Linked DNA regions of Homo sapiens: all the other regions are linked to region 4. The links come from fine-mapping of genetic effects on gene expression. A gene starts in region 4. Each other region holds a variant in brackets. All regions are shown on one strand. Distances are from middle to middle. Region 1 overlaps LOC107986487 (a long non-coding RNA gene). Region 2 holds the start of FAF2 (Fas associated factor family member 2). Region 3 holds the start of LOC100996385 (a long non-coding RNA gene). Region 4 holds the start of CLTB (clathrin light chain B).

The links.
Region 1: its variant is fine-mapped to the expression of CLTB in whole blood (INTERVAL, PIP above 0.99).
Region 2: its variant is fine-mapped to the expression of CLTB in esophagus mucosa (GTEx, PIP 0.95).
Region 3: its variant is fine-mapped to the expression of CLTB in whole blood (GTEx, PIP above 0.99).

What each region holds. Positions count from the first base shown.
Region 1 is chr5:176,122,976-176,131,081 of GRCh38, reverse strand. LOC107986487 (a long non-coding RNA gene) reads left to right here. Exons shown (of 3, transcript XR_001743014.1): 3 at 4,153-4,241. It also overlaps the pseudogene FAM153B and the pseudogene SEPHS1P3. Among named protein-coding and RNA genes, the nearest start is that of SIMC1, 110 kb to the left of the region's middle. The variant C/T (reference allele first, on the strand shown) is at 3,600.
Region 2 is chr5:176,440,767-176,448,857 of GRCh38, reverse strand. FAF2 (Fas associated factor family member 2) reads right to left here and starts at 473. Exons shown (of 11, transcript NM_014613.3): 1 at 388-473. The coding sequence starts at 450. RefSeq lists enhancers at 393-452, 763-822, 903-1,092 and a silencer at 533-582. The variant C/T (reference allele first, on the strand shown) is at 4,859.
Region 3 is chr5:176,059,113-176,067,213 of GRCh38, reverse strand. It overlaps LOC100996385 (a long non-coding RNA gene), which reads left to right and starts at 5,159. Exons shown (of 3, transcript NR_103794.1): 1 at 5,159-5,519; 2 at 6,849-6,982. It also overlaps the pseudogene FAM153B. RefSeq lists an enhancer at 2,318-2,935. The variant A/G (reference allele first, on the strand shown) is at 3,169.
Region 4 is chr5:176,411,637-176,419,742 of GRCh38, reverse strand. It overlaps CLTB (clathrin light chain B), which reads left to right and starts at 3,204. Exons shown (of 6, transcript NM_007097.5): 1 at 3,204-3,566. The coding sequence starts at 3,380. It also overlaps a transcript of ARL10 not described here. RefSeq lists silencers at 2,912-3,371, 3,412-3,511, 3,622-3,701.

The sequences.
Region 1 (8,106 bases), 290 kb after region 4:
ATAATAGCTGGGGACTCCAACACCCACTTTCAGCAACAGACACACCCTCTAGGCAGAAAAGTAACAGACCAGACTGACTCCAAGAGAAGTCAAAGGGACCTCACAGGTAATTACAGAACATTTCACCCACCAACTGCAGAACGTGCATTCTTCTCATCAGCTCACAGAACATTCTCCAGGATAGACCACATTTTAGGCCACAAAACAAATCTCAAAAGAGCATTTAAAAAGTGAAAATCATAGCAAGTATCTCAGACCAAAGAGAAACATTGGAAACTCTCCAGGTACATGGTATATAAATAATGGTAATGGTCAGTGAAAAAATCAAAAGGACAAAAACATTTCTTGGAAAAAAAAGGAAACGAGAGAAAAAATGCATATAGTAGGTGTTTTTGAAGTAAAAAATGCAGAACAATAAAATTCAAAGATACAATGAAAGAAACATTTTCTGAACTAAAAATTGATTTGAATATGTTTTCTTTCATTGGTAACAAAATGACTGGCAGGGAAAGGTGACGTCCCTGATTAGATAACTTTTTTTTTTGGGACGGAGTCTTACTCTGCCACCCAAGCAATTCTCCTACCTCAGCCTCCCGAGTAGCTGGGATTACAGTCATGCGCCACCACGCCCAGCTAATTTGCTGTATTTTTAGTAGAGATGGGGTTTCACCATGTTGGCCAGGCCGGTCTCAAACTCCTGACCTCAGGTGATCCACCCACCTTGGACTCCCAAAGTGCTGGGATTATAGGTCTGAGCCACCATCACACCCAGCCGATTAGATAGGCTTTTAAAGCCGCAGCGGAAGGGGCAGCAATGTCTGTAACCGGTGGCCAAACAGTATTAAACTCCTGGGTTGTTTTGGGAGGAGTCACTACAACTACAGCCCAACTACATTTATTATGCCAGATAACACAGTGCTGGGGGGACATACTGGAGTTGACAAGATCCCCTGGGGGCACAAGTGGCAATGGCTGTGCACCAGTGGCTGGATATTCCTGAAAAATGAAATAAACATAAACTGTGGTCACCGAAGAAGATGTAGAATTAATGTACCAAAAAGCATTGATGAACATGGTCCAGGTCAACAGGAAAGCTGCAGGAATCATGTACACGTTCAATGCCCACGCAGCCATTGACATCACTGGTTTCAGGGTTTGGGAACAGGTACAGAATATGACCAGGCAGCAGAGGTGCTCTCTTTTTAAAAGTGCTTTCATGGGCAGGCATGGTGGCTCATGCCTGTAATCCCAGCACTATGGGAGGCCGAGGCAGGCAGATCACCGGAGGTTGTGAGTTCAAGACCAGCCTGACCAACATGGAGAAACTCTGTCTCTACTAAAAATACAGAAAAGTAGCCAGGCATGGTGGCACATGCCTGTAATCCCAGCTACTCGGGAGGCTGAAGTAGGAGAATTGCTTGAACCCGGGAGGCGGAGGTTGCGGTGAGCAGAGATCATGCCATTGCACTCCAGCCTGGGCAACAAGAGCGAAACTCAGTCTCAAAATAAAAAATAAAATAAAAGTGCTTTCACATATGTCAGGCATTACCAATAGTAGTGTCAAATAGCAGTTGGTGTCTTTTCATTTTATGTATGTTTATCATATGTCTGATCTTTTTTTAGTGTCTTGAATGGTTTTCTGGAAAGACAGTATTGGCAAGTGGCACAGGATGGTATCCCAATTGTAAGAGGGTTGCATGATTCCTTTGTCTTTGATTTGAAAAGCCTAGTCTTGGACCCGGCTCAGTGGCTCACGCCTGTAATCCTAGCACTTTGGGAAGCCCAGGGAGGTGGATCACGAGGTCAAGAGATCGAGACCATCCTGGCCAACATGGTGAAACCCCGTCTCTACTAAAAACACAAAATTTAGCCGGGAGTGGTGGTGGGTGCCTGTAGTCCCAGCGACTCGGGAGGCTGGGGCAGGAGAATCACTTGAACCCAGGGGGCAGAGGTTGCAGTGAGCCGAGATTGCACCACTGCACCCCAGCCTGGTGAGAGAGTGAGACTCCGTCTCAAAAAAAAAAAAAAAAAAAGAAAAAGAAAGAAAAGCCTAGTTTTGTCACTCAAGAGCATCTCACACCCAGGACATTTTCTAGTACTGCATTCTGTTCAACACAGTAACTGCTTCACTGCGTAAAAAACACTTTGAAGACAAAAAGGAATCTTTTTTTTTGTAGTCTTCCTGATATTTACAGTAATACTATTAACTATTTATTGACAGCAAAGACGAGATTATTTGCAAAGTGATGTAATTAGGATTTTTTTTTTTTTCCGAGATGAAGTCTCACTCTGTTGCCAGGGCTGGAGTGCAATGGCGCGATCTCGGCTCACGGCAACCTCCACCTTCCAGGTTCAAGCGATTCTCCTGCCTCAGCCTCCCGAATAGCTGGGATTACAGGCGTCCGCCACTACACCCAGCTAATTTTTTGTATTTTTAGAAGAGATGGGGTTTCACCATGTTTGCCAGGCTAGTCTCAAACTCCTGACCTCGTGATTCACCCGCCTCGGCCTCCCAAAGTGCTGGGATTACAGGCGTCAGCCACTGCGCCCGGCTGGTTTTTTTTTTTGTTTTTTTTTTTTTGACCAAGTTTTGCTCTTGTTGCTCGGGCCAGAGTGCGGTGGCACAATCTCAGCTCACTGCCACCTCTGCCTCCCGGGTTCAAGCGATTCTCCTGCCTCAGCCTCGCTAAGGAGCTGGGACTGCAGGCACCTGCCACCATGCCCGGCTAATTTTTATAGTGACAGGTTTTCGCCATGTTCGGCAGGCTGGTCTCCAACTCCTGACCTCAGTTGATCTGCCTATCTTGGCCTCCCAAAGTGCTGGAATTACAGGCATGAGCCACCGCGCCCAGCTGAAATTAGATGTTTTTTAGTGTAACAAGGAATTGCCTTCCAAAATGAAGTTCATGTATTATGCTCATTTGCAATATATAATTAACTGTGCAAAATGATTTTTAAATATAGTCAATAACAAAGATTGTTCTGTATATGGTAGTGTTTAATACCTTTTTTTTTTTTCCCTGAGACGGAGTCTCACCTGTAGCCCAGGCTGGAGTGCAATAGCATGATCTCGGCTCACTGCAACCTCCTCCTCCTGGGTTCGAGAAATTATTCTGCCTCAGCCTCCCAGGTAGCTGGGACTACAGGCATGTGTCACCACACCCAGCTAATTTTTTATTTTTAGTAGAGATGGAGTTTCACCATGTTGGCCAGGCTGGTCTTGAACTCCTGACCTCAGGTGATTCTCCTGTCTTGGCCTCCCAAAGTTCTGGAATTACAGGAATGAGCCACTGCATCCGGCCAATACATTTTTTAAAATCTTGTATATTGATTTCAGGCCTGTTTTCTTAACAGTAGCAGCTATTTCGCTTAATTCTGAGCAGTGTTTTGTTCTCTGGGCCAGTAGGATTTTATGCATGCTTTTTGTGATCCGTGTTCAAAATCTGGATTGCCAACATTGCAGCTCCAATGTAAGCTTGTTATTCAAATAAATATTTAATTTTTAAACTTGCTCCTGTATGGCTGGGTGCAATGGCTCATGCCTGTAATCCCAGCATTTTGGGAGGCTGAGGTGGGTGGATCACCTGAGGTCAGGAGTT[C/T]GAGACCAGCCTGGTCAACATGGTGAAACCTTGTCTCTATAGGTTCAAGCGATTCTCCTGCCTCAGCCTCCCATGTAGCTGGGATTACAGGTGCCAGCCACCACACCTGGCTAACTTTTTGTATTTTCAGTAAAGACGGGGTTTCACCATGTTGGCCAGGCAAACTCCTGACCTCAGGTGATCCACCCTCCTCGGCCTCCCAAAGTGCTGAAATTACAGGTGTGAGCCGCTGCTCCCAGCTGGGATACACATATTTAAAGTTGTTACCAAACTTCAAGGATCAAAGAAAGATTCCTAAGGAGGGTACATCTGAGAAAAGAAAAAGTTCTGTTCAAATAAATATTTTTCCGAGAGTTTTCCATAGCAATGTTTAATGCTAGAAAAAATGGAATAATATGACACATATGTGTGTATACTGTACATATAACTAAAGACATATAAAATGGTCTGAAATTACAATGCACAAAGCCAATAGCATTAGTTACTTCTGAAAAATGTACTGGAATTGAAAAGAAGACATTGGTCTTGTGTAAAATTTTAATTTTTTAAACAGAATATGAAACAATATTAATAATAACCACCACAACAATAAGAACAATGCTGAAGCAACCTCTTCCAAGTTATCAGGACAAGACCATGTGATCCAAACAGGTATGTTCAAGTTGTTTTTTAAGTAGAAGGAAGCAAACCTCATTTTCAAATATACAAGGAGAGACCCATCTCATGAAATAATTTCGATAAGCAAGAAATGACTGGAGAAGCCATGACTTTTAAAAAATTGATAGTAAGCAACCAATCCATTATAAAATTGTTAGACGATTATAAAAATGATTATAGAATTACATGCTGTAATTCCTCAAGGAAGAATATGGTGGGTGAGTTCTTATATATGTAACATTGATAAATGTGAATGATGTCTTACAATTTAAATTATGCCAAAAGAAGTAATGTGTTTTTGATGGTGTTATCAGATTAGATTCTTCCAGAAAGGTTGAAGGATCTTTCGGAAAGATTCGAACATTAAACAAACCAGAGAATAAGGTAATAGATAGCCATTGTAGGTTCCTGGATGGTATGGCAGATTATATTACTCTCAAGAAGCATTTGTTCCCTCCCCACCCCCAACGCTGCCTGCATGTACTACCCCATTTCATTAATGTTGGACTTCACCAGGTGACTTTCTTTGCTCAGTGTAGCATTAGCAGACTTGGTTCTGCCATTACTGTTACAAGAATAATGGAAAGCTGACCATTCTTCTTCTTTAGTTCCAAAAGTAAAAATAAAATGAGTGTTAAGAGACAGAATACAAGCCACAGACTAGGAGAAAATATTTGCAAAACACATGTCTGATAAAGGGCTTATATCTAAACTAGACAGAAAATTCTTAACAATTAAAAAACAATTTAAAAGTGAGAAAAAGATCTGAAGAGACATCTGAACAAAGAAAATACACAAGAGACAAATCAGCAAATAAAAAGATTCTCAGCCAGTTGCGGTGGCTCGTACCTTTAATCCCAGAACTTTGGGAGGCCAAGGTGGGCAGATCACCTGAGGTCAGGAGTTTGAGACCAGCCTGGTCAACATGGTGAAACCCTGTCTCCACTAAAAATATAAAAATTTGCTGGGAGTGGTGGCATGCACCTGTAATTGCAGCTACTTGGGAGGCTGAGGCAGGAGAACTGCTTGAACCCAGGAGGCGGAGGTTGCAGTGAGCAGTGATCACACCATTGCACTCCAGCCCAGGCAACAGAGTGAGACTCCACCTCAAAAGAAAAAATAAGGCAATTTTACAGTAAATACGAAATCTCATTTCTGAGGGCCCCCCCCACCTCCAGTTAGGTGATCCATTTGGTATGGTTGGGAGATGTGACACTCAAGGCTGGTATACCACGTGGTTACTGATTGAGAAATGTACATCACTGGGAAGAATGGATGGACTGCATGTTCTCTATGCAGCTATCAGTACACCTCTCTCTAAGCTGGCTTTTGAAAAATATGGCTGTGGGTTTGAGGTGATAACACTACCCCCTCTCCAGCAGCTCCTGTGTCGTGGTGCACGTATCAGGTGGTCTTTGTAGCCAGTGAAGATAGAATCCGGATTGGAATATATGTTAAACAAAGGCTGAATCAGGACATGTGCCAAGCTGAAGACTTTTCCAGTTCTGTACAACTGAGCCTCAACAGTGTGTTATGACAAAATTGTTCTCCAAACATTAATTTGTGGTCTGCTCCCATACACAAACAATACCAAATAATGGACTATGTGTCCATCTTGTCCATCTTTGACACTGTGTTCTACCAAGAGAGACACCTCCCAAAGCCAGAAAATGTTTATTAAACAAAATCAATGAAATGTCTGCGCACAGTCCAGGTGGCAGAGGTTTACTTCTTGAATAAATGACTTCATCTTTTAACACCATTTCACACTGAAGTCCAAATGGCCTCACAAATATTTCCTGGATCCTAACAAAGAAAATAATCTCAGTTGAAGATCCTGTATTCAATTATTTTGGCAACTATTTCTTACGTGTTTTCTTTTTCTTTCTTTTCTTTTTTTTTTTGAGAAGGAGTCTCGCTCTGTTGCCTAGGCTGGAGTGCAGTAGCACGATCTCAGCTCACTGCAAGCTCCGCCTCCTGGCTTCACGTCATTCTCCTGCCTCAGCCTCCCGAGTAGCTGGGACTAGAGGTGCCTGCCACCATGCCCAGCTAATTTTTTTTTTTTTTTGTATTTTTAGTAGAGATGGGGTTTCACCGTGTTAGCCAGGACGGTCTCGATCTCCTGACCTCCTGACCTCGTGATCCGCCCACCTCAGCCTCCCAAAGTGCTGGGATTACAGGCGTGAGCAACCGTGCTCGGTCATCTTACATATTTTCTTTGTCTAAATGACTGAGCTGGGTGCTGAGGAGATGATGTTGGCCAGGATGGTCTCTATCTCCTGACCTCATGATCTGCCCGCCTTGGTCTCCCAAAATGCTGAGATTACAGGCGTGAGCCACTTTGCCCAGCCAAGATTGAAATCTTGATGAAAAAAAGCAGTTTGGAAACTTACCTGTTTTTTATTCAAAGCCCGTCCTCTCCTTCTTGTTCATGAATGGCAGGCATCCTGTGGTGACTGAAGAAGGGCCTACCAGCGAAGGGACTCCATCGCCTGAGGAGCAGCTTCCGCAGGAGCTCCGGCAGGTTCCTTGGAAAACGTGGCAGTGCCGGGCCCATGGTGCCCTGTTCAGAAATACAAGACTCAGATTTAGTAAAGCCAGTTGTGTAATGTGAAATTCGTTTAAAAAATCCTTAACCAACACATTTCATTTCATAAGACCGATGTATTCTATCAACAGTCTTTTACTGTATGTTCATACTTAACGGCATTAAGAATCACCGTGATGGGCTGGTGACATGCATCTGGTTCATCAATGTTAGTGGCAAAGCTTCCAGCATCTACAACTCTAGTCACCAAAATCAAGAATGTCTTTCTCTTCTCTTTTTACCTAATTACAAAAAAGGGATTGATTTATGAAAAGCAATATATTAACAAATAGCACAACTTATGTTCATATCATTGCCACTTCTAGCCACAAATTAGGAGTCAGGATTAAGGAAAACTTACCTAAGTTTTCCCAGGCTATTTTAAAATTGCTTTTTTTCTACAAAAATAAATGTTAAATTCTTCTTTTGAGGTAGTCTCAATTAAGTTGCTGCTAATTGGAAAAGACTATTAGATCTTAAGCTGAACTGACAATTTTATAAAATAAATAGACTTCCTTTTCTACTATTAGAATGTTCTAATAATGAGTTCTATTATTATAGTAATACTTCTGAATTCCCTTTTAAAATATTGTTACTATCTTGGCATTTTTCAGACTTAACCTGAAAATGTTTTAAATATCAAAATAGACATATCCGAAGTTTACAACAAGGGTGTACAATCATGATGGGCACACTTCCTCAAACATGGGGGACCAACCCAACTCAGACCCATCACACCCTCAGCGTGTGGAAATGTTAAACTATACAGGAACCATGGCTGGAGACAAAAATCTGTAGGTGTCCCTGACATAAAATGCCATAGTACTTGCCTGCAGCCTGGACACACCCTCCAATATCCTTCAAATCATCTCTAGATTACCCACAATACCTAATACAATGGAAATGCAACGTAAATGGTTGTTATACTTTATTGCATAAAGAATGACAAGAAAAAAAGCTTGTACATATTCAGTACAGATGCAACCATCCTTTTTTTTCTGGAATATTTTTGATCTGAGGTTGGTAGAAAGCAAGGATGCAGGACCCACAGATAAAGAGGGCTGACTGTATTTAACACACACACACATTTTCTTTTGCCTGAGTAAAAAACAAAATTGTACTTGTAACACAGCTAAAGGATGTCAACAAAACTGTTCTTTCCAACCTCAAATTGATAGAGACGACCTTCAAAGTCCACATAGAACCTCTTATTGCCTTTTGTATTTTTAGTAGAGACAGGGTTTCACCATGTTGGCCAGGCTG
Region 2 (8,091 bases), 29 kb before region 4:
TCAGAGACCCGAAATGACGCCAACTCCGCGGTGGGGACTAAGCTTCTCCGGCAGATATAGACTCGTTGGGCGGAGAGGGTCCGACCGATAACCGGGCTGGGAAGGATGGCTGAGGACTGACGCCGCTAAGGCAAACCAGGGAAGCTGACACGCTGAGGGCACAGAGGCACAGACGAGGCGGGTCTGCCCGCAGCGATGGCTGGAAGGCTAGGGTCCAACAGAGGCTTGGGGGCCGGGGGAATCAGGGCAGTTGGAGTCTGGGGGGGAGGGGGCCGGCCTGCTGGTCTGAGAAGGATCTGAACCCAATCTGAGGAGGGTTCTGAACTCCTCTAGGGGCCTACTCCCCATCCCACGGAGGCATCTGCTGCACCGAGTACTCGCTGCTACCTGAAACTGCAGCAGCTTCTCTGTCTGCTCCTGGGTTAGATCCCGCTCCTCAGGCGCCGCCATTTTGCCGCCGCCTCTACGCTCCTGACCCGTCCGCACCGTCACCCGCCGGAACTGACCTCAGCCACAACCACATCCGGTCTGAACGGCCGCCGGCGCGCAACTGCGTCTGCGCGCGCTGGCCCACTAACCTCCCCCCGCCCCCCGCCACCTCTGGCCGCCGCCAGAGGGCGCCACGCTCGGGCCTATCCCGAACACTTCCGGAAATTGCCGAGGGACTGTCGGTACAAGTCGCTCTTACCATTTAGGCGACGAAAGGATCTGCTAAGATTAGGCGACGAAAGGAGACCTAAGATTCCAGTGCAGTCTTGCAGAGCCGAGAGGGCCCGAATGTGCCTCGAGAAGCTCCGGAGCATCCCGAATGGCATTCGGCTGATTTCGGCTGCTCTCTAACCATTTTCCGGCAACCTCAGATACTCTTGGAGGTTTCTCGGGAGACGCAGCCGTTCCGAAATACCAGCCTTTTGGTCGCTGGCCCCTGACCTAAAGTTTCCAAAAGCTCCTGACCATCTCTCGGGAGGTTCCGAAGGGCTCTGGATACTGGCGCGGCATTTCCGACGCCGCCTTCGAAGCGGAAGCTGTGGGCAGACTTCGGCCACCGTTCCATTGCCGCTTCGGGGTCACTTGCAGGAAGATCTGGACTCGGCTCCCCGGATCCTCGACCATTCATGGCGCCCCCAGTCGTCCGCACAGCTTGCCGTCCACCGCCGTGACTGCGGCGCTGGAACCCCGGCCCGGCATCTGCTTTTCCGTGCCTGGAGCCTTGTCTCTCCGCACTAGCGCTGCACTGGCCCCTTGTCTCTGTGACAGGCGAAGAAAGATCCCTGGACCGGGATTAGGAGACGCGGGTTCTAGTTGCCACCTTGCCAACTGCTGGACATCCTTGGGCAAACCACTTGGGCTCCATTTTGCCATTTGTTGAATGAGATTCCCCAAAAGCCCCTGACGTGCTGCCGCCGCCCCTTCTCCTCGAGGCAGTCCCCTGCCCTTCCCTTCTGCTGCTTACACTACCCTATCACCACCCCTCAATCTCTATCTTCCTCTGCACGTCCCTTGCCCCTTCTAGTCCGCCACCTCTCTTTAGATTTCCCGTTTTCATTTCCACCTCTCCCGCCGAACGCCTCCTCTGCCCACCTTCCAGAGAGGCCTGGGTCTGGTACACGCTTTTCCACTGACCACCTGTGTGATTCTCAGCAAGGCTCTCGGCCGCCTGCGCCCCACCCTCGTCCCCTTGCAGGGTTGATCCGGTGAGACAGAAAAGGCTTTGAGAGCTGGTTCTGTGAAGAGTACATGAAATTTTGGCTACTTCTTTCAGGACTTATCAGGTCTTACCAGGTCTGCACAAACCACGACGTCCTGGAAAAACAGCACATGGTACGCCCTAAAACACAACCCCCAAAAAGTGCTAATTGGAAAAACAAAACAAAACAAAACAAAAACCCTGCAAATTTGGATCTGCATATGAAATCTTTCCGTTTAAAAATGGTGTCGGCCGGGCTCTGTGGCTCACGCCTGTAATCCCAGCGCTTTGGGTGGCCGAGGCGGGCGGATCACTTGAGGTCAGGAGTTCGAAACTGGCCTGGCCAACATGGCGAAACCCTGTCTCTACTAAAAATACAAAAATTAGCCAGGGTTGGTGGCGCACGCCTGTAGTCCTAGCTACTCGGGAGGCTGAGGCAGGAGAATCGCTTGAATCTGGGAGGCGGAGGTTGCAGTGAACTGAGATTGCCCCACTGTACTCCAGCCTGGGCGACGGAGTGAGACTCCGTCTCAAAAATAAATAAATAAATAAATAATATGTCAATTAAGTAAAAACCCCCGAAGGTAAAATCGGAAGCAGATAGCTGCTACTCTATAGAGAATTTATTACAGCAGCTCAAAGCTCAAAGGAAACTCAGTGTTGTTCAATCTCACCAATAACGTTGGGTTCAGATAAACTAAATGAGGGTTGGCAAAGTCAGATGTCCTCAGGAATTGTGTAATTCTCACTTAAGATATATACTTGCCAGCAGGCATGGTGGCAAATGCCTGTAGTCCCAGCTACTCGGGAGGCTGAGGTGAGAGGACCACTTGAGGCCATGAGTTCAAGGCTGTTGTATGCTGTGATCACACCACTGCATTCCAGCCTGGGTAACATATTCTTTCAACAGACCTAATTTGTAGTTATATGAAACACCATTGAATATTTCTTCACTTCCTCAAAGAAAGTTACACTTTCTTTTTCTATCTTTCTGTTTTCTTCTTTCTTTCTTTCTTTTCTTTGAGACGGAGTCTTGCTCTATCGCCCAGGCTGTAGTGCAGTGGCCTGATCTTGGCTCACTGCAAGCTCTGCCTCCTGGGTTCATGCCATTCTCCTGCCTCAGCCTCCTGAGTAGCTGAGGCTTACAGGTGCCTGCCACCATGCCCGGCTAATTTTTTTTTTGTATTTTTAGTAGAGATGGGGTATCACCGTCTTAGCCAGGATGGTCTACGATCTCCTGACCTCGGGATCCGCCCGCCTCGGCCTCCCAAAGTGCTGGGATTACAGACGTGAGCCATCGCACCTGGCCCTGTTTTCTTCTTTCAATAAAGATTAGGTTACAAGAAATAATTCATTTGTTTAAAACTCTACTTTAATGTGTCTCCGTGTGGGGACAAAATATGAAAAGCCGGAGTGTCCATTCCCTGTCCAAAGGTGGTTTTTGGCCAGACGCGGTGGTTCATGCCTGTAATCCCAGCATTCTGGGAGGCCAAGGTGGGAGGATTGTTTGAGCCTAGGAGTTGGGGACCAGCCTAGGCAATATAGTGAGACTGCCTCTACCAATTTTTTTTTTTTTTTTTAATTAGCCAAGTGTGGGCCGGGCACGGTGGCTCACACCTGTAATCCTAGCACTTTGGGAGGCTGAGGCGGGCAGATCTTGAGGTCAGGAGATCAAGACCATTCTGGCTAACACAGTGAAACCCTGTCCCTACTAAAAATAAAAAAAAATTAGCCAGGCATGGTGGCAGATGCCTGTAGTCCCAGGCCGAGGCAGGAGAATCGCTTGAACCTGGGAAGCAGAGGTTGCGGTGAGCCGAGATCGTGCCACTGCACTCCAGCCTGGGCAACAGAGCGAGACTCTGTCTCAAAAAAAAAAAAAAAGTTAGCTGAGTGTGTTAGTACGCATCTGCAGTTCTACCTAGTTAGGATGCTGAGGCAGGGATGATCACTTAAACCCGGGAGGCAGAGGTTGCAGTGAGCCATAGTCATGACTGCACTCCAGCCTGGGTAACAGAGCAAGACCCTGTCTCAAAAAAACAAACAAAAACAAAACAAAACAAAAAACAGACGGTTTCTGCCTTTTAGCTGTGGAGGATGGCTTCCATGTATTGCCGGAACTGCCCATTTTTTTTTCAGAGCACAGACATTCTCACCCCCCCAAAAAAATGTGAGGTGATGCATATGTTCATCAGCTTGATTTAGCCATTCCACAAAGTACACATATTTCAAAACATCATGTCCTACATGATACATTTTATTTGAAAAACATCACATTGTACACCTTAAAAAGTAAAATATGCTAATTTGAAAAGAAAAACTCTACACATTTGGATTTCCATGTGAAATCCCCCCATTTAAAAATGGTGTTGGCCAGGCGCGGTGGCTCATGCCTGTCATCTCAGCCCTTTGGAAGGCCGAGGTGGGTGGATCATCTGAGGTCAGGAGTTCAAGACCAGCCTGGACAACATGGTAAAACCCCGTCTCTATGAAAAATAGAAAAATTAGCCAGGGATGGTGGCCCGCACCTGTAATCCCAGCTACTTGGGAGGCTGAGGCAGGAGAATCACTTGAACCTGGGAGGCGGCGGTTGCAGTGAGTCGAGATCACGCCATTGCACTCCAGCTTGGAAGATAAGAGTGAAACTCCGTCACAAAAAGAAAAAAAGAAAAAGGTGTGAACTAATTCAATTCAAAAAAAGGTGTCAATTTCAAGAAAATTACTCTGCAAGTCAACCAGAATTGGAAGAAGCCTCATAGCCTCTGTTTGCCATGGAAGAAGCAGACCTGGGAAGAAACTCAAACTTTTTTTTGATAAGTTCAAGATGAAGAGTGTGAAAAGTGTTACCAGTTATTGGCTTGCCTTTTCTTTTTTTTATTTATATTTATATTTTATTTTATTTTATTTTATTTTTTGAGACGGAGTCTTGCTCTTGTAGCCCAGGCTGGAGTGCTGTGGTGCAATCTTGGCTCACTGCAAGCTCCGCTTCCTGGGTTCACACCATTCTCCTGCCTCAGCCTCCCAAGTAACTGGGACTACAGGCGCCCGCCACCACACCCGGCTAATTTTTTTGTATTTTTAGTAGAGACGGGGTTTCACCATATTAGCCAGGATGGTCTCCATCTCCTGACCTCGTTATCTGCCTGCCTCAGCCTCCCAAAGTGCTTGGGATTA[C/T]GGGCGTGACCCACCACACCCAGCCTACTTTTTTTTTTTTTTTTTGAGACAGATTCTTGCTCTGTCACCCAGGCTGGAGTGCAGTGGCACTATCTCGGCCCACTGCAACCTCTGCCACCTAGGTTAAAGCGATTCTCCTACCTCAGCCTCCCAAGTAGCTGGGATTAAAGGCACATGCCAACAAGCCCGGCTAATTTTTGTATTTTTAAGTAGAGATGGGCTTCTCCAGGTTGGCCAGGCTGCTCTTAAACTCCTGACCTCAGGTGATCCACCCGCCTTGGCCTCCCAAAGTGCTGGTGTTATAGGCGTGAGCCACTGTGCCTGGCCTTCTTTTCTTTTTTTTTTTTTCCTCTTTTATTTTCTTTTCTCTTTTCTTTTCTTTTTTTTTTTTTGAGACAGGGCCTCCCTCTGTTGCTCAGGCCAGAGTATAGTGGCATGATCATGGCTCACCGCAGCCTCGACCTCCAGGGTGCAAGCGATCCTCTCACCTCAGCCTCCCAAGTAGCTGAGACTACAGGCACACACCACCACACCAGGCTAATTCTTTGATTTTATTATTTTATTTTATTTTACTTTATGTTCCAGGATACATGTGCAGAACGTGCAGGTTTGTTACATAGGTATATATGTGCCATGGTGGTTTGCTGCACCTATCAACCCATCCTCTAGGTTTAAGCCCCGCATGCATTAGGTATTTGTCCTAATGCTGTCCCTCCCCTTTCCCCCTACCTCCAGACAAGCCCCGTGTGTGTTTTTCCCCTCCCTGTGTTTACATGTTCTCATTGTTTAACTCCCACTTACGAGTAAGAACATGTGGTGTTTGGTTTTCTGTTCCTCTGTTAGTTTGCTGAGGATGATGGCTTCCAGCTTCATCCATGTCCCTGCAAAGGACATGATCTCATCCTTTTTTATAGCTGCATAGTATTCCATAGTGTATATGTTCCACATTTTCTTTATTCAATCATTGATGGGCATCCACGTCTTTGCTATTATAAATAGTGCTGCAATGAACATACGTGTGCATATGTCTTTATAGCAGAATGATTTATATTCCTTTGGGTATACACCCAGTAATGGGATTGCTCACAGCAGGCTAATTCTTGTACTTTTTGTAGAGATGGGGTTTCACCATGTTGCCCAGGCTGGTCTCACACTCCAGAACTCAAGCGATCTTTGTGCCTCAGCCTTTGAAGTAGCTTGGTCTAACAGGTCTGCACCACCAAACCCAGTTTATATTTTAATCCAAAGTGGATTTAAAAATTCCACCCAGGGTAAGAGGATTGCTTAAGCCCAGAAGACCAGCCTTGGCAACACAGTGAGACCTCTGTGTCTATAAAAAATAATAAGCAAAGTAAATCAGAGGCTGAGCTTGCAGTGAGCCAAGATCGCGCCACTGCACTCCAGCCTGGGCAACAGAGCGAGACTCTAAAAAAAAAAAAATCTGTTTGTAAAAAATTGCGTGATTTGTGAACTGTGAACAAGTTTAAATAACACCTGAGCTGGCAGAATGGGAAAGGGAGGAAAAGCAACAGACCTACTTACAGATGGTTTAAATAACCCATTTGCATTTAAATTGTCCCTACAATCTTAGCCTCTGCCTGGTTGGGAGGGCATGTTTCCCAGGAGACAGTGTAGTTTCCATTGAACTGCTTGCTGCGATGACCACCTGGACACTTTGGACACCTCATGCCGTAAACCTGCGAGTGGAGGAGTTGTCAGACCAGCAGGGTAATCCCCCTGTTTACAATGAGGGGCCAGGGTTGCTGTTATACACCACAGAGTCAGGAGTGTGTCTGGAGCTCAGGGGACTTACTGGGACATCTTTTGTCACTTCCACACCCAGTGATAACGGAAAACAAGCAATTGCCACAACCACAGCCTGACAAGGGAAGGTAATTAAAGGCTGAGACCCTTCCAAAATAAAAGTCTGGATTGCCCAGGCTGGAAAAGCATCAGGCCAACCAAAGTACTAGCCAAGGGTGAGGGAAATGCCGAATGAGTAATGGAGGAAGGAGATGACGATTATCACTTACAGCCTTGGGACCAGTTGCAGCTGCAGAGAGCTTAGTTTGTTTCACCAGCTAGCTCACCTTAAGTCTTTGTAGATTGTTGCTGGCTACTAAATGAAAAGGGATTTTTATGAATGTTTGGACTCCTACCGTCCCTCTTGGAAGGAATGAGGGCATTTTGTTCCTACAGTCGTGGAGAACTGTAGGACTGGATATAACGGGAGGGAGTGAGCAGTGCAAGGGAGGGACTGCATCCAACATCTCTTACATTTCACCTGAGATCTTTGCAGTCTTACCTATCTCCAAGGCCCTTGGTCACTTGTTGCACCCCCAGCCACTTCTGTGCTGATCAGTTCTACTTGGATGGATTCTGTCTGGCCACCTCCGTGGTGACCAGCTTGCACAGACCCAGTGCAACAGCATGTCACTTGCATGTGCACTACAGGCTTTGACTCCCGCCCTGGAGCTTTTCTATTGCTACTGGAGCAGGAGACACCATGGACCAGCGCAGCGCCTACCCACATGTGACCCAGAAGTGCAGGGGAAGTAATGGCCCGTGGGGCAAATTTTTGGCCATTAAGAGATGGGAGTGTGAACCCTGAAAGAGCCAGTCCTTCAAGATGGATCCTGAGTGGCTAAGTGGGCCTGAATTCAAAATACAGCCAAGCGGCCATTCACTGACTCTAGGTCACCCACGTATCCTGCATTCCCAGGAACCCACATGCTCATGTAATGTTGGGACTTTCATAGCTGTCTGTTCTTGTTCATCCTGCCAGAAATAACGACTGTTGGAAAATCCCATTTCGCCTCCTGAACTACTATTGTTTGAATATGGTTTGTTTGGCTCCGCCAAGTCTCATGTTGAAGTTTGATCCCCTATGTTGGAGGTGGGGCCATGTGGGAGGTGCTTGGGTGATAGGGGTGGATCCCTCATTAATAACTTGATGCTGTTCTTGTGGGAGGGAGGCAGGTCTCACTCTTAGCTCTCAAGATAACTGATTGTTGAAAAGAGCATGGCACCTCCTCCCCTCTCTCTTGCCTCTTCTCTCTCCATGTTATCTGCACAAGCCTGTTCCCCTTCACCTTTTGTCATAAGTGGAAACTTCCTGAGGCCCTCATCAGAGGCAGATGCTGGTGCCATGCTTCTTGTACAGCCTGCAGAACCGTGAGCCTAATAACCCTCTGTTCTTTATAAATTATGCAGTCTTGGGCATTCCTTTAGAG
Region 3 (8,101 bases), 350 kb after region 4:
TTGTCTATGCATCCCAGGATTTCCAGAACAAAAATAAAAAATAAAAGATATTCACTGAATCTGTTATTATGATATATTTAAGCAGGACACAGTGGTAACCCTAAAAATTGGAGATCATTAAAGACCAAAGTAACAGCATGTGGGCATGATTTCTCAAATCGCAGTATAGAAAATACATAAAACAAATAGATTCAATTGCAAGCTTAGGCAAGAAAATATTGATAAAATGATTGAATATCTTATTTCATAACTCTAAACAGGGATTTAGCACGACATGAAAACTAGATTCACATAATCAAAATAAAAGACCATTTTTATTCTAATTTTAACTCAGAAATTATTATGCTTATTCAATTTAACACTTTCACTGAAAGGTTAAAGAGATAAGAAGGACAGATTATAATTGCTTAATATTGCTATGGTAACTTCCATTCAAATACCTGTGAGTCACCAGAAGTCAAAAAGGTAGCCAGCATTGCAACACAGGATGGATCATGCAACAGAAACTAGCACCAGGTTACCTTATCTTATAATATTATTTGCTGTTAAAATGAAATTTTAAAACAGCACCAAAAGTTAAGTTGGGGCTAAAACTGTTGTGCAGGAAAGATTTCATATAGCAGGAGAGAGACTGCCGTCCTCAGAAAGACCCGCATGCAAGCCTGGCCCTTGGCTGTTGTTTAGGAAATTGGAATTGGGAGGGTTCCCACCATGCCCTAAGACTGGTCACTGTGTCTAAAGTGTTTATAGAAACAATGCGGTTACTTCTGAGCAGCTGCTTTCCTTCTGAAGGTCGGAATGTGGGTACATGTGAGGGAGAGTAACCTCCATAAAAAACACTTGGGTACTGAGTCTCTAATGAGATTCTGGTACTGGTAGACATCACTGCACATGGGTTGTCAAAATGTGAGGCTGGGGGAATTAAGCAGATCCTGGGAACTCCACAGGAGAGAACTTCTGGAAGCTTGTGCCTGGTTTCCTCCAGACTTGACCACCACATGCACCTTTTCCCTCTCATTTTGCTTGTACCCTTTCATTGTAATCAATTAAAGATCTGAATATGATTATTTGCTGAATCCTGTGAGTCCTTCTAGTGAATCACCAAACCTGGGGGTGGTCTTGGGAACCCTTGTCACAAATGCATTATATAAGGTTTTTATTAAGTTGACATGACCTATAATCAGATGGTTATTTCACAGAATAACTTTCCCTAATCTGTTTTTCTTTTCTTTCCTTGATATTTGACTTGGAGGTTCTTGTATTTCTATACTCAACTGATTAAAGCCATAAAAGAAATAAGTGAAGCAATTGTTAGAAAATAATGGGAAATAAGCAGCAATCCTAGTTTTACCAGAATAAAAAATAGGGAATCTTGATGATTGACAATATGTTCTACAATATGAATGTTTCTAGAAACAAAAAATGAAAAGGTGGTCAATTTTCTGCAACTCAACTGGGCTTAATTCCTTTTTATAATAATTGTGCAGGCCAGGTGTGGTGGCTCACATCCGTAAAATCCTAGCATTTTGGGAGGCCGAAGCAGGAGGATCACTTGAGCCCAGAAGTTCCAGACTTCCAGACCAGCCTGGGCAATATAGTGAGGAAAAAAAAACCTTAAAAGGAAAATTAGCCAAGCGTGGTGGGGCATGCCTGTAGTCCCAGCTACTCGGGAGGCTGAGGTGAAAGAATCATTTAAGGCCAGAAAGCAGAAGTTGCAGGGAGCCAAGATAGATCCCACCACTGCACTCCAGTACTGGCAACAGAGGGGGACCTGTCTCAAAAAATAATAATAATAAAAATGAATAAATAAATAAACAAATGATTGTGTATCCAGCTAGATGTAACTACACATAGCTACAATCCCAGCTACTCAGGAGGATGAGGTGGGACGACTGCTTGAGCCCAGAAGTTCCAGGCTACAGTGAGCTATGACTGTACCACTGAATAGACACAATATTCTAGCCTGGGCAACATAGAGAGAGCCCATCTCTTATAATAATGATAATAAATTAATTGTGCATCATTCAAGTAACTTGTATAACTGGAAAAAAACATAACCATTGAATATAGTATAATAGTATAACTACTGATCATAGAGTTCCTTTTACTTGCCCCTAATCTTTTCATTTCTCATAAGACTAAAACATGGTTGACCCATTCAAGGCAGTTCATCACAGAACAAGTCAAAAAGCCAAAAGAATTGCATCCAAGCTGTAGGCTGTGTTATCCACTACTCCCTGCAAGCAGTGGATTTGGTCATTAACAATCAGCAGGACTTTTAACTTTGTGTGCATGTGTGTGTGTGCGCACCCGAACGCACATGTGTGTATGTGCACGTGTGTGTGTAAACTATGACAGATAAAACCATTTTGCTTATGTAAGAATATGTAACATAACTTGTGCTTCTCACAAAGGAATTGCTTTTCTGTTTTCTGCACTCAGTAGGTATCTTCAAACAATAATCTCCTATTCGTATGGGTGCACACTGGTTCACTTTTACAGTTCTTACTGCCATTTATTTATTCTACGAGAAAGGGATTGTTGAGTTCCCGGTTCTAAAGATACTTCCTTAGTGACACAAATTAACAGGTAATACAGTTCACCCTTGAACAGCAAGGGTTTGAACTGCAGGAGTTCATTTATATGCAGATTTTCTTCTGCCTCTGCAACCCAGAGACAGCAAGACCAACCTCTCTTCCTTCTCAGCCTGAACAACCTGAAGATGATAAAGATGAAGACCTTTGTGAGGATCCATTTACGCTTTATGAAAAGTCAATATATTTTTCCTGCAGATTTTCTTTCTAACAGCTTCACTTGTCTAGCTTACTTTATTGTAAGAACACAGTATATAATAATGCAGCACAAATAAAATAGGTATTAATCGACCGTTTATGTTATCAGGAAGGCTTCCAGTCAATAGTGGGCTATTAGTAGCTAAATTGGGAAAATCAAAAGTTATACTTAGATTTTCAGCTGCACTGGAATCAGAGCCCCTAACCCCCACATTATTCATGGGTCAAGTGTAATTATGTATTTACTAAATATAAACAATTTATTATAAAAATAAACAACTTATTACAAAAATGAACTAGAAGATCCATATGTATAACAAGTCCAATTTGTTACAATGTGACTATAGAGAAAACATAAATATTATATAGGATTTTC[A/G]GGATCATAATTAAGTAAATGATTTTTTTTTTCAGATAATACTGTTTGAGATTATAAATCAGCTACAACTACCTTCTTAAATAACTCTTAATTCCAAACTAAAGAAGTTAAATATAAGAAACTAATTTACATGTATGTATATATGTATATATACATGCAATTTACACATCTTTTTAAACTTTTCTTTTCCTTCAAAACTACCTTAATCTTACATCTTAATTTTTTTAAACCAAGAGTAGGACCACCATGAGAAATGAGAAATTCACTATCAGAAGTCTTACCTGGATTGTAAGTTTTAAGAATCTTCTTTTTAAGTTCCAAAATTTGGTGTCGAATTCTGTATATAAAAAAGTAATAAATAAAATTGCTATTTTAATACTGAAATAAAAGTTACCATATTAAATTCTTAATGTTTGGTAAATGTATAATCAAACTGATTCTTTTTTCCTCGCTGGCTAAAACAAAATACATCTTCGCACATCAACGTACTTCTATATCTATTGTCACCTTTGATGGTCACATATTATTGCATCCTATGGATGCAACTGAAATTTACTTATAAGATCCATTCTATGGGTTCTTTTTAAAATAAGTGCTGTGAAAAACAAAGTGCATGTATCTCTATTTCCCAAGGGTATTTTAGTATAATGGAATTGAAGGGTAACGGGCATACGCATTTTTAAAATATAGTACTTACCACCAAATTATCTATTTAAAAAGTAATCAGCAACTTAAACTTCAGGCAGCAGTATAAAAAACATCCTCACACATTGTGGATAGAAAACAGTTTCATTCCTCTTTTAATTTAAATTCTTATACCAGAAAAGCAAAGGCTTTTTTTCCTATTTACATAAGAAACTTGTAGATCTGCAAAAAAGTACTTTGCCCCCTTTTACAGTTTTTGATTATTTGATTTGAAAGAATTCCCTGTAAAATGAAGATGCACTTTTCAGGCCGGGCGCGGTGGCTCACACCTGTAATCCCAGCACTTCTGGATGGCGGCTCACTGCAAGCTCCCCCTCCCGGGTTCACAGCATTCTCCTGCCTCAGCCTCCGGAGTAGCTGGGACTATGGGCGCCCACCACCACGCCCGGCTATTTTTTTTTTTTTTTTTTGTATTTTTAGTACAGACAGGGTTTCACCGTGTTTGCCAGGATGGTCTCAATCTCAATCTCCTGACCTCGTGATCCGCCCACCTCGGCCTCCCAAAGTGCGGGGATTACAGGCGTGAGCCACCGCGCCCAGCCCTAAAATTTTTACAAATGTCATTACAATAGTAAAAGACAGTAGGTGTCATGCAAAAATGTTAAAACCTTGATTTTTTCATTCGGCTTATGTAAAATTGATAATCACAGAAAGAGCTCACATTTTGAGAAAAATGTGTCTTCCCATTCAGGAACACAGAACCCACCTCCCACTTCCAAGTTTCCTTCTAAGAACCTTCAGTAAAGAACCGATCTACACAGGTGGATACGGATGTAAAACGGACAGTTTTAGGTGAGAGCTTTTCGCTACTGAAAATGACTCACGGTTTTTTGTTTGTTTGTTTGTTTTTCTTTTTGGAGATGGAGTCTCACTCTGTTGCCAAGGCTGGAGTGCAGTGGCACCATCTCGGCTCACTGCAAGCTGCGCCTCCCGGGTTCACGCCATTCTCCTGCCTCAGCCTCCCGAGTAGCTGGGACTACAGGCGCCCGCCACCACGCCCGGCTAATCTTTTTTTTTTTTTTTTGTATTTTTAGTAGAGACGGGGTTTCACCGTGTTAGCCAGGATGGTCTCGATCTCTTGACCTGGTGATCCGCCCGCCTCGGCCTCCCAAAGTGCTAGGATTACAGGCCTGAGCCACCGCGCCCGGCCGACTCACGGTATTTTTTGATAGAGGAATGAGTTCTCTCATTAGGCACCTCCTATAATGTGTATAACACCATGTTTTAAACGTGTAGGTTAAAAATAACACTGTGTATGCTTAGCTTGGTGAGTTAAATCACTCACATTCTCCACCAAGCGCTCCAGCTGGGGAATTATGGGGGATGCAGAGCAGCTGAGGCTCCGTTTGGCACCACCCCTCTGAGGGTGCCCTCCGAGGCCCCATCCCAGGGGCTGCGGGGAAGCCGGGCCTGGGGACCCCCTCCCACCCTGGGCTGAGCCCCCACCCCACTGCCTGTGCTGCCTGTCCCCGGCTTCCAGGTCTCTGCTCCTGCGCTCCAGGCAGCGCTCCACTTCCGCGGCTTCGCCCTTGACAGCGCCCTGTGGATCTTCCGATTCGGTACCCCGAACCCCTGTAGACGTGGCCTAGGGAGCCCCGGACCGCCGGCCCCTGCGGCTCCCAAAGCCGAAGAACTTCTTCAAGGTGGTGAGTTCTTCTCAGACCCCCAACCACTGGCTCCTGAGCCGCGGCAGCTCCGTGTCACCTTTTCACTCCCCCTCGCCCCACACCCAGCCCCAAATCCCCAATCCAACTCCAAATCCCCTATCCAACCCCCAATCCGCGATCCAACCTCCAATCCGCGATCCAAACCCCAATCCGCGATCCAACCCCCAATCCGCGATCCAACCCCCAATCCGCGATCCAACTCCCAATCCGCGATCCAACCCCCAATCCGCGATCCAACCCCCAATCCGCGATCCAACCCCCAATCCGCGATCCAACCCCCAATCCGTGATCCAACTCAAAATCCCCGATCCAAATCCCAATCCGCGATACCAAGTCTGCGATCTAGCCCAGAATCCGCGATCCCGCCTGGTCCACCCTTCAGCAGCGACACTGGCGGCCTCCGACCTCTCAGACCTAGTGAGCCTCGCAAAGCCGCCCGGCTCCCGGAAGCCGCAGGTGCAGGCGCCGCTGGGCTCGCGGGTTCTCCTGGCTGGCCCGGGCTGCCCCAGGACCACGGACGGAAAATCGCAGGCGCGCGGCCCACCCCGCCTTAAGGGGAGGGCCCGCCTGGCCGTGTAGCCCGCCCCGCTCCTCCTTCCGAAGAGAGATCTGGTGCTGGCATGGGCACCCCGCGGCCACCGGAGTGGCTTCCCGGATGAGCCTGGCTTCGGCGCTGACGCTCTGGCCCTGGGGGCTGCCTGGCTGGTGTCAGGTAGCGGAAGACGCCTGGAGAGTCACTCGCTCCTTCCCCCACCCGCCCCCACCGCTGCTCGTGCCAGGACGCGCAGTTTGCAGTTGCAGCTCAGGCACTGGCGCGGGATGGCGGAGCTTCCCTTGGATGGCGTCAGGGTCACCGAGTGCACAGCCTACCTGGTCTGAGGGTCTGCTCCTCCTGGACACCTCTCCGGATCCTGATCCCTGGCGCTGGGCAATCCACAGGATGAGACTCATCGGCTGCTGGCGAAGCCGACCGCCTGACTTTGCTGCCTGGGCGGCTGGCCCCGGGATCCGCGCTGCTGGGGACGCGGGCCTGGTCTGCGGTGTCCAGCCACTTGCTGCGGGCGCGCCACGTCTAGGCTGGTGGCTGCAGCCGCAGCTCCGCGCCTGCGGGGGCTAGTGGGCCTGGTACCTGATGTCCTCAGGGTCAAGTGCATCGCTCACCCACCTGAGGGTCTGCTCTGCCTTGACCTCCTCCAAGAGCGCAGGGGCCACCGGGGAGGCAATTTAGGAATGCCTAAATGGAAGGAACTATCCTTTCTCTGTCTTTAAGAAATAAGTGGCTTTTGTTGTTGTTTTTGTGATACCCAGCTACAGCAGAAAGCAAAGGGGATGCAGAGGTGAAGGTCCACAGCCAGTTCCTCTACTGATTCCCTCCAGGCATAAATGTTCAATCTAACGGCTTTGGTTGGCACTTTCACCTCAGCACTTACCTATGCCTACAGGTTTGTTCAATGGCAACTCTTGGATTTTGAATTAATACCCAATTATTTCATATTTTAATACCCAAACTATTTTAATAGTTTACCATATCTGCAATCCTGAATTAATTTTTTCTTTGTTTATAAAACAATCACTATAGTAAGATAAAAATCACAAAACACTTCCACATTTCATTGGGCTAAAAAAGCATTAAAACATTATACGTAAAAGATAAAAAATACATTGTTTCATCATAAAAATTATGGCTTTGCAAAATTTTTTTACCTTTAGCTACATTCTTACGATTCTTTAACTTTTCACTGTTATTTTATACATTTTTAAAACAATGCATACCAGTGTTTAAAAAACAAATGCAGCACTTCATCTAGGACTGAACATATAACGCTGGTCAGCTCTTTCAGCATGGTGCAGGTGTGGGCCTCAGGCTGCTTTCTGTTTACATGTATCAAATGACATGACCATCTTAACTGCACAGATACCATCTTCTCGGCTTCTTTCTTCTCCCCCAAAACTATTTAATGTTGCTTTAATGGCAACATCAATTTAACTAGTTTTGTAATTTCTGTATTTAATTGTCACATAACATTATATCCGTTCTTTTTTTTTTTTTAAAAAAAGGAAAGCATACAATCTTAGTTGCTAGGCCAGTTCTTCTGAATCAATTTGAAATCACCTTTTTTCTCTTTCATAATAACTACTTATTTTAATCAACAAGTCAACTATTATTAGATATTAACTTATTTTTTCTAGTTAAAATTTTGCTATCTTTCAAATAATTCCAACTCTTACACACACATTTAATGTACATAACTGTAACATATACATACATAAGCACAGGTTAAGCCAGATCTAACATGAATTTAGATATGCCAAGAAAGCCACATGACCATTATTTACATAAATATGACCAGTGTTCACATTTATCAAGGCCAATGAATATTAAGGTGATTGCTTCAATAAGAAATTAGGTGAAGAATTATTTGTTGAATATTGTCAAACACTTTTTTAACCTGTTAAAGTTATTTAAGCCCGACCCAAATAATTTTTAAACTTTTTATTCTATCATGCCTATAGACAGCTTCATATATTAACCATTTCTGCTTTCGTGGTCCTTTGAGAAT
Region 4 (8,106 bases):
CATAGTACTGGAAGTCCTAGCCAGAGAAATTAGGCAAGAAAAAGAAATAAAAGCAACCCAGATTGGAAAGTAAGAAGTATCTCTGTTTGCAGATGCTATTTATTTATTTAGAGACAGGGTCTCACTCTCATTGCCCAGGCTGGAGCGCAGTGGTGTGATTGTTATAGGACAGGGGTCCCAATCCAGACCCCAAGAGAGGGTTCTTGGATCTCACGCAAGAAAGAATTCAGGGTGAGTCCTTGGTGCAAAGCGAAAACAAGTTTATTAAGAAAGTAAAGGAGGGGCCGGGCACGGTGGCTCACGCCTGTAATCCCAGCACTTTGGCAGGCCGAGGTGGACAGATCATGAAGTCAAGAGATCGAGACCATCCTGGCTAACAGGGTGAAACCCCGTCTCTACTAAAAATACAAAAAAAAAAAAAATTAGCTGAGCATGGTGGCAGGCTCCTGTAGTCCCAGCTACTTGGGAGGCTGAGGCAGGAGAATGGCGTGAACCCGGGAGGTGGAGCTTGCAGTGAGCCGAGATCGCACCACTGCACTCCAGCCTGGGCAACAGAGCGAGACTCCACCTCAAAAAAAGAAAAAGAAAGTAAAGGAATAGAAGAATGGCTACTCCATAGACAGAGCAGCCCCAAGGACTGCTGGTTGCATATTTTCATGGCCATTTCTTGATGAAATGCTAAACAAGGGGTGGATTATTCGTGCCTTCCCTTTTTAGACCGTATAGGGTAACTTCCTGATGTTGCCATGGCATTTGTAAACTGTCCTGGCACTGGTGGGAGTGAGGATGACCAGAGGTCACTCTTGTCACCATTTTGGTTTTGGTGGGTTTTGGCTGGCTCCTTTACTGCAACCTGGTTTTTGTTGTTGTTGTTTGTTGGTTTGTTTGTTTTTTGAGACTGAGTCTTGCACTGTCACCCAGGCTGGAGTGCAGTGGTGAGATCTCGGCTCACTGTAACCTCCGCCTCCCGGGTTCAAGCAATTCTCCTGCCTCAGCCTCCCAAGTAGCTGGGATTACAGGCACCTGCCACCATGCCCAGCTAATTTTTTGTATTTTTAGTAGAGACGGGGTTTCACTATATTGACCAGGCTGGTCGCAAACTCCTGACCTCACAATCCGCCCACCTTGGCCTCCCAAAGTGCTGGGATTACAGGCGTGGGCCACCTTGCCCAACACTGCAAACTGTGTTATCAGCAAGGTCTTTATGACTTGTATTTTGTGCTGACCTCCTATCTCATCCTGTGATTTAGAATGCCCTAACCGTCTGGGAATGCAGCCCAGTAGGTTTCAGCCTCATTTTACCCAGATCCTGTTTACGACGGACTTGCTCTGATTCACACACCTCTGACACAATCATAGCTCACTGCAACCTTGACTTCCCGGGCTCAGGTGATTCCCTCACCTCGGCCTCCTGAGTAACTGGGACTACGGGCACCATACCACCATGTCTGGCTAATTTTTTGTAGTTTTAGTAGTGATGGGGTTTTGCCACGTTGTCCAGACTGGTCTCAAACTCCTGGGCTCAATCTATCCACCCACTTCCACCTCCCAAAGTGCTGGGATTACAGGTATGAGCCATGGCACCTGGCTAATAAGCTCTTATCTGCAGAAAACCCTAAATATTCCACACACAAAAAATGTTAGAGCTAATAAATGAATTCAGCAAAGCAGCAGGATACAAAGCCAATGCACAAAAATCAGTTAAATTTCTATGCATTAACAATACGCAATCAAAAAAGAAGATAAAACTTCCACTTACAATAACATCAAAAAGGCCAGGTGTGTTGGCTCATGCCTGTAATCCCAGCTCTTTGGAAGTCTGAGGATGAGAGGATCACTTGAGCCCAGGAGTTGAAGCTGTAGTGAACTATAATCGTACCACTACACTCTAGCCTGGGCAAGAGTAAGATCCTGTCTCAAAACAAAAAACAAACAAACAACAACAACAAAACCATGCAAATGGACAGCAATAAATAAATACATTAATTTAATTAAATAAAACAATAAAAACCCCCCCAAAAACAGTAACATCAAAAGGTGCTCAAGTTGTTACCAATTAAACTGAAAGTTCCAGCTGGGCTTGGTAGCTCACACATGTAATCCCAGTGTTTTGGGAGACCAAGGCAGGAGGATCCCCTGAGGCCAGCAGTTCAAGACCAGCCCAGTTAATATAGCGAGGCCCTGTCTCTAAATAAAAAAATTAAAAAGAAAAAAAAAAAAACACCTGGAAGGTCCCTTCACCCCAACTCCACTTCCACCCCCAACTTGGCGGCACATCTTTCCTTTCGCTCTTCCAGTCCATATTTCATAGTTGCCTTTCAAGTCCCACATTAGAAATAGCAGACAGCCCAAATCCCATGGTGTTTCTTTGCATCGTCTCCCTATACCCCGTGTTTAAATGTCACAGCGCCTCACACACAGTGCTTTGACAGGCCATTTGCCATCTGTTGGTCTCACCGGATTGTAATCTCCGCATGGCCATGGCTGGATTTTATAAAACGTTGCTGTCCTGGTGCTTGGCAAAGCGCAGGCAGGGAGGAGGCATTCAGAGCCTGTTCACAGAGGGCAGCGGGCAGCGTGGAGAGTGGTAGGCTGCCTGGGTAAACCAGGTCTGCCTTTCTCAGGCTGGTTCATACCTAAAGGACATTTAAGGGGCCTAGCTGGCCATCCAAACTCTGGTCGTATGAACTGAAGCCTCCTCAAGGGAGATACACAAAAAAATACACAAAACAACACGGCCTAGTGGGAAAGGACCTGGACTTGCATGAAAAGGTGCGGGGCAGCCTTTCCCAGCCTCAATTTTCCTCTTCTTACAGAGGCGGAGGCTCATAGAATGAGGTGCATGACATCCCAACCTAGGAGAAGAAACTTCTGCAGAATGAATCAGGAGCCAGGTCTGCGCTCCCGAGGCCAGAGGTGGCCTCCTGTCGCAGCTCTGTGCACGGTACGGCCACTCTGTGCCCTGCGTTTCGCCTCCAGGCCGGGCGGGAGCAGTGCCTAGCCCAGGTGTCCTCGACGCGAGCAGCTGGGCGCCGCTGCGGAGGGAGGGAAGCGCCGCGCCGGTCCCGGGCCCAGCGCTGCGCCCAGTCCTGAGGCGCCCTCCTGCGGCCGCTGCTCGGCGACCTCCCGGCCCTGCGGCCCCGCCCCCGCGGTGACGTCACCGCATTCCGGCTCCGCTCCTCCCGCCGCGGCGCCCGCACCGCAGTGACAGCCAGCCGGGCCCGGTGGCGGAGAGGAAGTGCGGTCCGCGCCAAGCCCGTCCCCGCCGACGCCGGCTCCCCCGCGGCTCGGGTGACAGCGTCGCGGCCGCCGGACGCAGCGCGGGGCAGGCGCGGGCAGAGCCGAGCGCAGCGGAGGCTCCGGCGGAGGCGCGGGGAAAATGGCTGATGACTTTGGCTTCTTCTCGTCGTCGGAGAGCGGTGCCCCGGAGGCGGCGGAGGAGGACCCGGCGGCCGCCTTCCTGGCCCAGCAGGAGAGCGAGATTGCAGGCATAGAGAACGACGAGGGCTTCGGGGCACCTGCCGGCAGCCATGCGGCCCCCGCGCAGCCGGGCCCCACGAGTGGGGGTGAGTCAGCGCGGGGCCTGGAGAGGGGCTCAGGGCGCGCACCCGGGGGACCCCGGCCGGGGCCCAGGGGCACAGGGAAGAGAGCCTGCTCTAGGCCACCCGGGGCAGGAGCTGGGAGACGTGGGGAAGAATCTTCTTGGAGATCTCCATGTAGGACTTCCGAGCTGGGGATGAGGCCTCGCCTGGGGCTGTGGATCTGGTGACTCCCGGGACAGGAATTCGGTCATGACATTTCATCCCCAGGCCAGCTTCCCCACTGCCCGGCTCTGGAATCCAACCCCACCTCAGTTTTGAGAGTCCCTCCTGAGCCTCCTAATAGCCTGGGTGTCCCAGGCTCCCAGCTAAGTGTGCAGGTGTGGGCAGAACACAGCCCTCCTGGCCCCTCAGGCTTAGCTCTCTCCTGCAGCTGGGAAAAAAGAGGATCCTGGGTGCTCCAGGAACTCACTAACCTTCCCCGGTGACCGCCTGGCATTCGGCAGTCGCTGGGCTAAGCGCCTTGGTTACATTTAATCACTTCATACACGTGATTGAACCCATTTCAGAGATGGTAAAACTGAGGCTCAAGGGAGTATGCTATTGAAATAACTAGTAAGTGGCAGATCAAGAATTTAAACCTGTTTCTTTTTCTTTTACATATATATTTTTTCTTTTCCTTTTTTTGAGATGGGGTCTCGCTATGTTGCCCAGACTGGTCTTGAGCTCCTGGGCTCAAGCAATCCTCCCACCTCTGCCTCCTAAAGTGTTGGGATTACAGGTGTGAGTCACCACACCTGGCCGTGAATTTAAACCTGTTCCTGTCGGACTTGAAGCCCTCTCCACCTGACCACACTGCCTACCAAGTGTCTGGCTCTGAGTTAGACACCGGAGTGTGGGCCACAAAGAGGCATCAGTCAGATGCGGTAGGGCCCTTCAGGGTTTTGTAGTTGTCGACTTAATGGTTTTCCAAAGGTGGTCCGGGGCTATTATGATTTACTGTGATTGGCTTCAGACCTCAGTGTTCAGGGCCTAGTCCCTGTGAAATCATCTTTATCAATGATGTTTCTGCCCTGGTTCTGGCTAGCAAGAATGATTTTGTAAAATATTTAGTAAAAAAGTAGATATCACCTTCATGGGTACATCCAAAACAGGTTTTACTTCCTGTTGATGTCATTTTGGAAAGGTTTATGGGCCTGTTGTAGTAAGTGCTAACATATATACATATAGACATATTTTGGTTAATGATGTTTACAAGGCTCTTCACAGTCATGTTTGTATCCATTCAACGTTTACTGAGCACCTACTGTGTGTCAGGACGCTGGGGATACAGAAATGAATAAGACAGTTCCTGTGGCTGAGGAGTTTGAAGCAACTCTGTATCTCCTTGATATGAGAAATGTAACCAGGCTTTTGTAACATGCAAGAAACCGGTGGCCCAGAGAATCTGAGTATCTTGCCCAGAGTCACACAGCCAGGAATGACCAATCTAGGACTTGATCCCACGCCTCCCAACTCTGGGCTCCATGCTCTTTCAAATGCTGTGGAGCCTGGGCAACATGGTGAAACCCCATCTCTACAAAACATACAAAAATTAGCCAGGCATGGTGGCATGTAGCTGTAGTTGTAGTTCCAGCTGCTCGGGAAGGCTGAGGCAGGAGCATAGCTTGAGCCCGGGAGGTGTAGGTAGGTCGCCGTGTGCTGTGATCACGTCTCTGTACTCCAGCCTGGGCAGCAGAGTGAGACCCTGTCTCAAAAAAAAAAAAAAAAAGATTCTATAGCAGTCACCTCCCTGGCAGGAGATAGGATGTGGGGTGAGAAGCATGGGGTCTTTTGCCACCTATCTGAGACAGCAATGGAGGGCTTCTGAAGTGGAAGCTTCCAGCACCTCAATACAGAATCTGCCGTGTCCCAGGGAATTCCTAAGAAATGCCTGCCCCAGTTAATGCACCAGTATTCACTGGACCACACCTCTGTGAGACCACCCTTTTCCTCAGTCTGGCTCACTGGGGCCTGTTGGGGTCGGGGTGCAGGGAAGAGGAGGGAGGCCTTGTGGGGAGGTCCTGCTGAGGGGAGCCATTGTGAGAACCTCAGGAGAGAAAAGATGGGATTCAGGCTGAGGGCAGCCAGATGCCTGAGGGAGCTGAGCAGGTTGTGGCCTCTCCCAGGATGGTGGGGCTCCAGGGACTTACAGTCTGGATGGCAAGTTCTGTCCTTGGCAGGGGTGGGGCACAAATTGGCCTCAGACCAGAGGTGACAGGGAGAGAAACAATGACACGCTCGCTTCTTCCAGGGAGGTGCCGGGGATACAGCCTTCTGAGGGTCTCCCAGGCGCATACCTGCTGACTCTGCAAAGGCTCAGCTGCCCTCCTTAGTTGGATCGGGGAGCAGGGAGGTGTTGAGGGATGGCGGCTCAGTGGATGGCCAGATGGGCTAGAATTGATCTGACCTTCTCAGCCTATGCAGTGCTGAACAGGTAATCTTCCCCTGACCAGGGATGTGTGCCAGGAGCCTGGATGGGGCAGAGAAAAAGCGCCCTGGCCTGCTGAGAGCTGGGCAAAAGCTGGCTTAGCAGCGGCCGCCAGTCAGTACCTCTGAGGCACCTTCTCTTAGATGTTGGGGTCCTCAGATTAGCAATCTCTGTGCTGACACTGGGCTCAGTTGCCCCTGGGGAAAGAGGTATCTGGTGTAGGCCTGTGCTGGAGCCACAGGGAGCCCCTCCTCTCTGGCTGGATCTGTGGCCCTGGGTGATCTGGATGATGGACACTTTGTTTCCATTCATCAGCCTTGGGTAGGTTTCCATTTTCACACCCAGTTTTCTGAGCACCAGGCCTGGCTCTGACTTGCCTGTCAGTTCTGGGCAAGCCCATTTCCCCCGCTGGGCCTCGTAAGCTCACAGGAATGTTCTGGACCCTCTCTGCCCTTGTTCCAAAATGGGTCAGGCAGCTGAGGGAAGCAAACCCTCAGGGGTTTATCCCTGGGACGTGTCTCTGTCTCAGTCCTGTTCTGCTGGCCTGTGAGTGTGGACTCCCGGTGGTAGATGGGCAGTGGGTGGGTGGAGAGCACTGTGGGAACAGGTACTTGGAATGCTGTGTAGGTGTGTGTGGACTCTTAAGGAGGCCGAAACTGCATGTCCAGAGGAACACTCTCGAGGCTGAGGCAGAGAGACTTTCTGAAGGTCAGGGTAGACCCCAGGCAGCTGTGTGTAGATGTGGGGTCTGAGACTGGGGTTGGTCAGGGCGGAGTAGGGTGGTGCAAATTCTCGAGAAGGCCAAATGTACAGACCGGCATCACAGGGAATAGACCCTGGTAACGTGAGGCCCTGCTAGAGGAGACACCCCAGCAGAAGAAGCCCCTTTGCAGAAGATGCTGCCACTGAAATGCTATTGGTCCCACTGTGATTTAGGGGCCAGGACACCCATGCAGGAGAAGCCTTATCTGAAGGAATGGGAGTGACAGCTGACAGAGTTGGTTGGAATCAATCACTGGTTGACTCTGAAAGCAAAGTCAATTATGATTTATGTCACCCGGGGATTATTTCCATGGGATTAAGTACCCTTCCCTTGAGTCCCCAGGCCAAACACACTGTCGCTGCTCACAGCCCTGTCTGGCTGGTGAAGGGCTATTTGTCCATCTGCCTATTAACCTCATGTGGCCTCCATGGCTTTTTGCTAGGAGGCACAGCAGTTTCTGAGAGCCTTGCAGATAACAGCAGGCCTCAAAACAACAATTCAACTTCCATTTAGCCAATAGTTACTGCTCACCCATTCCGTGCTGGAGCCCTGAGGAGCTGAATAGGACACGGAGCCTGGTAAGGGGGTACACACGGACCCTGGGGGTCATGAGTAATTGCACAAGAGGGTGCAGGATACTGTATGATATCCTGGGATACCCCGGAAGTGAGACCTTCCGTAAGTGCCTAGGGAAGTAAAGGAAGCAGAGGAGGGCTTCCCAGAGGAGGTGACTTATGAGCTGGACCTTGGAGAATAAATGGAGCCAAAAAAGCATTCTTTTTTTTTTTTTTTTTTTGAGATGAGTCTCACTCTGTCGCCCAGGCTGGAGTGCAGTGGCGGGATCTCGGCTCACTGCAAGCTCCGCCTCCCGGGTTCACACCATTCTCCTGCCTCAGCCTCCCGAGTGGCTGGGACTACAGGCGCCTGCCACCACGCCTGGCTAATTTTTTGTATTTTTAGTAGAGACGGGGTTTCACCGTGTTAGCCAGGATGGTCTCGATCTCCTGACTTCGTGATCTGCCCACCTCAGCCTCCCAAAGTGCTGGGATTACAGGCATAAGCCACCACGCCCGGCCCAAAAAAGCATTCTTTAGAGAGGGAAGCAGGAAGAAAGCATGGGGATGAGGGTGGTGTGTTTGGAGAAGGAGGAAACCAGAATTTAGGGTTTGTGGGATGGGCTGGTGGGAAGTGAGTCAGGAATGGGCAGGGCCAGATTGTAGAGATCCTCATGTTCCAGGGTTAGATGTACTTATCTGGCAAATATTTATTGAGTCCTTGTTATGTTCCAGGGACTGTTGTAGGTGGGCCTCATCATGGATGAAACCAAGTCCACA